2 linked regions of the Homo sapiens genome follow. The protein of the gene in region 1 purifies or fractionates together with the protein of each later gene. This does not show direct contact. Each region holds a gene or a part of one and is shown in the gene's direction. Other genes may lie near its edges.

What was found.
Region 2: the proteins of TRIB2 (region 1) and GSTA4 purify together in Homo sapiens (affinity purification with mass spectrometry; 2 studies listed by BioGRID and IntAct, with this or other methods). This does not show direct contact.

What each region holds. Positions count from the first base shown.
Region 1 is NC_000002.12:12,733,936-12,737,435, forward strand, and holds part of TRIB2 (tribbles homolog 2), read left to right. Parts: intron 1-3,431; exon of another isoform or gene 3,432-3,500.
Region 2 is NC_000006.12:52,992,485-52,996,685, reverse strand, and holds the start of GSTA4 (glutathione S-transferase A4), read left to right. Parts: upstream 1-1,401; 5' UTR 1,402-1,437; intron 1,438-2,284; exon of another isoform or gene 2,285-2,424; 5' UTR 2,425-2,442; coding exon 2,443-2,529; intron 2,530-4,201. UniProt on the Homo sapiens protein: Conjugation of reduced glutathione to a wide number of exogenous and endogenous hydrophobic electrophiles. This isozyme has a high catalytic efficiency with 4-hydroxyalkenals such as 4-hydroxynonenal (4-HNE).

The sequences.
Region 1 (3,500 bases):
TGGGAGAGGAACCACACCCTGCTGCTTTTGGCTTCCTCACCTGGCACCGGGATCCGGTGACACAAGGCCTGGCACTGGGCTGGGCCGTCATTGAGTACACAGGCTGCCCACGTGTAAGCCTTGTTCATTCAGCAGGTTGAGAGCAAAGCAGGCTGTTCTCTTCCTATGCCAGGCACAGTTTGCAAAAGGCCTGCAGGGATCCAGCTTCTCTGGCCAAACCAATCCTGCCCCAGGCTGGTGGCTGGCAGGGAGATGTCTCTTCCCCTGAGAAGTTACTGGAGATAACCATTGTCATTTACAGCGTTTTAGGCACAAAAATTGCCACCACCCTCCACCCCTTGTCTCTTTGGGAAATGTTTATTCTTCTCGGACTGTTTCTGGTACCACCACTTCCAGGAAGCATATCCTGATTACTGTAGTCAGAACTGAATAAAGTGAGGGGACTGGGCTGGGCACAGAGCTGGGGAAAAGCATTCCAGCCCGCGGGAGGAACAAGTGCAAAAGACCCAGGAAGGAACGAGAATTCACATCTACGGCCGTATGCTGGGGACTTGCATTTCGTGCTTCCTCACCTATCTTCTCCACTAGGCTTTTGGGTTGAGGGTAGGTGCAAAGGTTCATTCTTAATAATAAGATCGATCATTATTGTTGCCCCCAGTTTTTTGCAGATCTACCATGCTAGGCTCCTCGGTAGATACCGTACTTGCATTATTACAGTTAATTCTCACAAAAACTGAGAAGGTGGGTGTTACTTGTCATGTCTGTCTCCCCAGTGCCTAGTTGGGGAACTCAAGCAGAGTAAATGCTCGGTAAATGTCTTTTACATGCCTGCATGACTAGTGGGACATTTGAATTACTAGGTCCACAGATGCTTCTGTTGGTTTTTATGGAAATCAGCTCCTTTGCCTGGAAAATTCATAATGCCCAGACTGTGAGGGGACATGAGCCATTGCAAGACTGTTCATTCATTTCTGCTCCCATTTCTGACATGTGCTAGAGCCCCACCAGGGACTCCCCATACACATTCTTGAGACCGTGACTGGCAGCCCTCTTTCCCAGAGGAGGGAGCCAAGGCCCAAAGACCTTCAGCAGCCTCCCTGCAGTTACACAGCAAGTCCACAGTGACCAGAGCTGACACTCACCCCCGCCTGTCAGACCTCCCTCCATTCCTCTCGCGTGGTATGCATCCTGAAAGGTCCTCGTTGAAAGACGTAATCCAGACCAGTTGCCTTGACCCTTGCCTAGAAGTTTTGTAAACAAGTTCACAGTGTTCTGAGAAGGAAGCAAGGTCAAAAGAATGACCTACCAAGGCCAGCAAGCCTGCATTTCCTCCCCATCCTTTCTCCCGGCTTCTCTTTTCTTTTGCCCCTCTCCTGCCTGGGATGCAGATTCTCCCCTAGAGAAAGAGCAGGCTCCTGCCCCAAGGATTGGCTGTCCCCTGACACTGGGGAAGCACACGTACAGCGCACCTTGATGGAGCCTAGTGAACTGAGCAACCCTGGTGTGGTTTCCTCCGCCAGCTGCTTGAGTAGGTGGGGTCAGGCCTAAGGAAGGTGAGCACCCAGCCACTGCCTTGCCTTGCCAGCCGTAGGAGCCTACTCAGACTCTCTGAGCATTAGGCTCATTGTCCATGAGAAAAGGAATCATAGTACCTGCCTTGGAAATGGATCTCCTAAACTTTAAAGAGACTATATGTGTAAGTGCCTCGCATGCATTAGGTACATAGATGACATCTGCCGTTTGGTACTTTGTAATTTTCAAGGCCTGATCTTGAACCCAGGTCTCTGTGGCCTCAGGACACTGCTTTGCTCTCTGACCTGGGCTGGTTTTTGTGGTTGTCCTTCTGCAGCATGTGCCGAACCAAATGTGACAAGCAGACCTGGGCCCTCCCCACTAAAATTTCAGCCTCTGAAGGAAAGGAGCACGTAGTGTTGGATACATGAGCTTAGGGGCAGCTGGTATTTGGCAGCATGTGGGATGGTCTTTTCATTTTATTCTCAAATTCACGAAGTATCGGGCCTAGATTCTGGGTGCTCATCTTGAGGTAGGAAAGGTGAAAGGTGAACTCCAGCTTGGGGGAAGGCCAGGGTTAGTGGACAGAGTGGAGGCCTTAACCATTTTCTGAGGCTTCCAGAAAGAGGGGTTAGGATGCTTTGAATGTGGGGACACCTGGGGGCAGGAGGAGGTGAAGGAGAAAGTCAGAATCTAAAATTGTGACCTGGAAGGGGATAGGAATGGAAAAGGGCCTCAGATTTGGTCAGAGATGCGACAAAAGTGAGCTGACACAGTCGGGGAAGCACAATCCGGGTGGGGAGACACTGTGGCAAAGGCCTCAGAAGGACTGGGGTCAAGCAGGGCATGTGAGGAACAGCAAACAGGCTGGGAAGGAGGGAGAGGGAGATGGTCGAGAGTCCCTTGCACGAAAAGCTTGAGGTGGTGAGCTCTGCACCCTGACAAGACTGAGCGAGGAGAAATTCAAGTCCCTGTAGTCATATCTCCCTCCCACCTTTACTGACAGATGCCTGATATCCCCACCCCCTTATCACTATGGGAGATTCCTTGATGCTGTCATTTACAAAGCCCATCCTCTGTAGAGCTCTCATTGACTGCCACTAAACCCTGGCCAGGTAGGCAGAGCACCGGCCCTTGTTCCTTTGCCGGTGAGCGCACTGAAGCTCACCCCCTGGGGTCGACAGCAGGACAGTCCCTGTCATTGATGGATTGTGTATCTGCCCTGTGCCAGGTACTCGTCTAGGTACTCAAGGTACAGCAGCAAACTTAAGTGTTGTTCTCTGCGTACAAAATGACATCAACCACATGCCCATGGGCTCTTGGAGGTGGGAAGTGAGGTGATCATCCCAAAATGATCACCATAATGATACATAGTAAATCATGAAATGTAAATGTACGATATCTCCCATGCTGAAAAGAGGAGGAGGGCGTGCTCCGTAATGTAGGATGGACAGGATCAAGTTTAATAACCTTCATTCGAGCAGAGGCAAGACAAAAGTGAGCTGTCACACAGTTGGGGAAGCACAATTAGGGCAAGGGGACACTGTGGCAAAGGCCTCAGAAGGACTGGGGCCAAGCTGGGCATGTGAGGAACAGCAAACAGGCTGGGATGGAGAGAGAGGGAGTGTGGCCCAAGAGATGGTCGAGAGTCCCTGGGGGTCACCCTGCAGCCGTGACCAAGCCCTAGGCCTCCACCTGGATGAGCTGCATCACCACTGCAGGTTTGGGGCAGACGAACCTGGGCAAAACCTGGGCCCTTTGATACCAAGATCCATGCTTGTTCCACTGGACCGCCCCTTGTCCCACAGATGGGAGAGCTTGTTTTTCTTCTTACTATTATTTCCACAGTTGTAATTCTTTCCATAGCTATTCTGCTAAAACAGTGAAATTGGAGATGAGGAGTCTGGCTTGCGCTGGGTGAGAATGGGTAGAGGAAGCTGTGGAGAGAACTCACGGTGCCTGTGGTTCGAGATCCCCGCCTTCCTCCT
Region 2 (4,201 bases), on another chromosome or scaffold:
AGTTTTAATATATTTTTAATGTTTTAACTAACTTGCCAGCCAAATTATTCTTTTAGCACCACCCCCAACTCCAAAGACCCCCTTCCAAACAGGTGCTGACTTGAGACCGTGACTATAGAGCACTTGTCTCTAAAATGTACAAAATGAAGAGAAATCTCAAGATGTCCCACTGAGATGAAGAAAGAAAGAAGAAAATATGTATGTTTGTATACATGTATACATGTATATATATGTATACACAAAATTAGAAAAGTTAGGGTCTACTGTATAAATTAAATAAGCGTTGACAGTGCTTTTGATTTTAATCTGTATGTGGTACTTTGCCTGCTTAACACCCTTATGTGGATTTCCTGACGGACTTGACATTCCTGTCAGGAAAGCATTGCGTACTTGCTGATTAAAAAGCATCTAAGGGCCGGGAGCGGTGGCTCACGCCTGCAATCCCAGCACGAGGCAGGAGGATCACCTGACGTCAGGAGTTCAAGACCACCCTGGTCAACATGGCGAAACCCCGTCTTTACTAAAAATAGAAAAATTAGCCGGGCATGGTGGCGCGCGCCTGTAATCCCAGCTACTCGGGAGGCTGAGTCAGGAGAATCGCTTGAACCCGGGAGGTGGAGGTTACAGTGAGCCGAGATCCGTCTCAAAAATAAAAAATAAATAATGAAAAAAATTAAAAATTTAAAAATTAAAAAACATTTAAAAAAGCATCTAACTTAGATGGGTAATGGGTCAAAAGAAAGGCAGACTGCCACATGCAGCGCCTCATTTGGATGTGTCTGGAGTCTTGGAAGCTTGACTACCCTACGTTCTCCTACAAATGGACCTTGAGAGCTTGTTTGGAGGTTCTAGCAGGGGAGCGCAGCTACTCGTATACCCTTGACCGAAGACCGGTCCTCCTCTATCGGGGATGGTCGTCCTCTTCGACCGAGCGCGCAGCTTCGGGAGGGACGCACATGGAGCGGTGAGGGAGGAAGGGGACACCCGCCTAGCCAGCCAGATCAGCCGAATCAACCCTGGCGATCAATGGGGTGACAGATGTCGCAGCCAGATCGCCCTCACATCCGAGGTACCCAAGCGGCGCACAAGCTATATAAACCTGAAGGAAGTCTCAACTTTACACTTAGGTCAAGTTGCTTATCGTACTAGAGCTTCAGCAGGAAATTTAACTAAAATCTAATTTAACCAGCATAGCAAATATCATTTATTCCCAAAATGCTAAAGTTTGAGATAAACGGACTTGATTTCCGGCTGTTTTGACACTATCCAGAATGCCTTGCAGATGGGTGGGGCATGCTAAATACTGCAGTCTCCATTGGTGAGGTCGTCCCGGAGCCTCGCCCAGCTCCCGCGCGCTAGAGCCGCCTGCTGGTCTCACCCAGCCGGGACCGCTGACCTGGCGCTTTGTGCGGCTCCAGGCCTCCGAGTGGACTCCAGGTCTGTCTCCCTCCTGCGGTCGCCCCCTTCCTCGCCCTTTCTCTCTTCTTTTTTTTCCCTCCCCTTTACTCTCTGAGTCTCACTCTCGCATTCTTCCCTCACTCCCCCAGTTCAGTCCTTCTCTTGTCTTTTCTTCCTCTTGTCCTTTGTCCTCCTGCTCCATCCAGTCTGGGCAGAGGTGGGCCCCTTGGCTGGAGCTGGGGTCCTTCTTGGCTCAGTGTGCGTATTTTTTTTTAAACCCCTTCTGCGGAGTCTGAATGCATTGGTGGAAGGTGGGCTCGGATCGTCCCCGGGCCTGGCTGGGCTGCCGCTACGCCCCTGCATGGGCTGAGCGGGGAAGACGAGCATGGGAGAGTGCGATCTCAGATGGCCAAGCCCTGGCCCCCGGCTCGTTTTACAAGGCCGGGGGCTCATCTCCCTGTAGGGGTGGTGGACACGCGGGACCCGGGGGGCGCAGCCACCGCATGCGTGACGGTGGACGCACATTTTGCAGACAGTAGTAGTACTCGGCCTGTTCACCTTCCAGTTGCCGTGATAATAAAATATGATGATGTATGTAAAAGCATGAATACTTGAAGAGCTTCCAGTGGCTGTGCGATTTTCCTTCGCTACCCTCTTCAACGCCTGCCACCCCCTATCCCCCAGCTGAATTTGGAAAATCTGAGATTCTCGAGGTCAAAATATATAATATTCTGAATTTGTGAAATCCCGTACTGCTAGCACATATGTTTTTACAACAAATGGCCCCAGCTTCCCAAGATCCAGGATAAGAAGTCATAAATAGAAATCATATAAAAGCCAAGGTTTTTTTCTCCATGTTTTAAAATGGTGGTTTTTTTTTCTTGAGTGAGGGAAAATGCAGCAACAAAAATAAAGAACAGTTTCCCGTGCCAAAATCCTGAATATTCATTTCGCCCCTGAGCACTGGGTTGAAGACGCGAAATTGGGACTGTTGGTCTGCGACGAGCTGCTGCATTTGTATTTCAGAAAGCCTGAAAAGCTATCATGGCAGCAAGGCCCAAGCTCCACTATCCCAACGGAAGAGGCCGGATGGAGTCCGTGAGATGGGTTTTAGCTGCCGCCGGAGTCGAGGTACCTTATATGCTGTTTCTTCACGGATTTGTCATACAGCTTTTGAGACCTTTGAAAGAAAAATACGTTTTGAAGCACCGTTCAGTTCTAGTTCTCGTCCACCAAAATCACAGGCACGCTTCACTGAGTCAGATACCATCCCTGAAGGGATTTTTCTTTATAATTAGAACGTAGTTGATGGAATTCTATTTTCCTTTTGACTTTTACTTAATTATTGGCTTCTGATCTAGCACCAGTGAATATTTATTAATAAGAAGAAAGGAAATTTACCTGAAAATTGTCAGTTACTCTGAGCTCTTATTAATTATGCATTCTCAGGGTAAATTTCTTGTTTTCTTCAGTGGCTTCAAACTGGCAGCCTTGGTATCTTGCTTACATATGTGTGTGTGTCTGTTTTTGTTTTCGTTCTGTTCTTTTAGCTTCTTAGTATGGAAATTTTCAAATACCAATAAATGTAGAGAGAACATTGCCATGAATTCTATGTACTCATCACCCGACTTCAGCAATCATCAGCTCTATGCTAATCTTGTTTCATCTATCACCTCCCTTCCCTTGTTTTGTGGGAGTATTTTAAAGCAAAATCCAAACATCATAACATTTCATCTGGGAGTTCCTCAACATTTTCCTCTAACAGATGAGGATTTTAAAATGTAACAATATTATTATCACATCCAACAAAATTAGCAATTCTTTGTCATCTAACCTTCAGTCTGATTGTCTCAAACAGGCATTTTGTTTGTTTGTTTGTTTTTATAGTTTGTTTTAGTTTGGATCTAGACATTGGTCTACGCATTACATTTAAAATGGTTATGTTTCTTTCGGTATTTTAAAAACCTGTAAGTTTCCTCTTCATTTTTTACAAATTTATATTTGGGAATATTTTCAGATTTATAGAAAAGTTGTAAAATAATACAGTCCCTCATTCAGTCTCCCTTAATGATAACATCTTACATCACCATGTCATATTACGAAATTAACATTGGTGCATGACTAACTAAACTACAGACTTTATTCAGATTTCACTGTTTTTTCTACTAATGTTCTGGGTTTTTTTTTGACGGAGGCTGGCTCTGTAGCCCAGGCTGGAGTGCAGTGGTGTGATCTCGGCTCACTGCAACCTCCGCCTCCCAGGATCAAGCAATTCCCCTGCCTCAGCCTACCTAGTAGCTGGGACTACAGGTGCACACCACCACGACCAGCTAATTTTTGTATTTTTTTAGTAGAGACAGGGTTTCTCCATGTTGGCCAGGCTGATCTTGAGCTCCAGACCTCAAGTGATGCACCCACCTGGGCCTCTCAAAGTACTGGGATTACAGGTGTGAACCACCACGCCCGGCCCTTTGCTAATGTCCTTTTACTATCCCGCGATCCAACATTATATTTATTCATCCTGTTTCCATAGTTGCCAACAATCCATGACAATTTCCCAGTCGTTTCCTTCATTTTACCATCTTGACGGTTTTGAAAAGCACTGGTCAGATATTTTTGTAGAATCCTCTACAAATTGGGTTTATCTTGTTTTTTTCATGATTAGACTGAGGTTATGGGTTTGGGGAAAGAATGCCACAGAGGTGAAGTATGTTCACGTCATCATATTAGGGGTTACGTATCAACATGAGTTGTCACTGGCAGTATTAACCTGGATCACATGGTTAAGGTAGTCTCTGCCAGG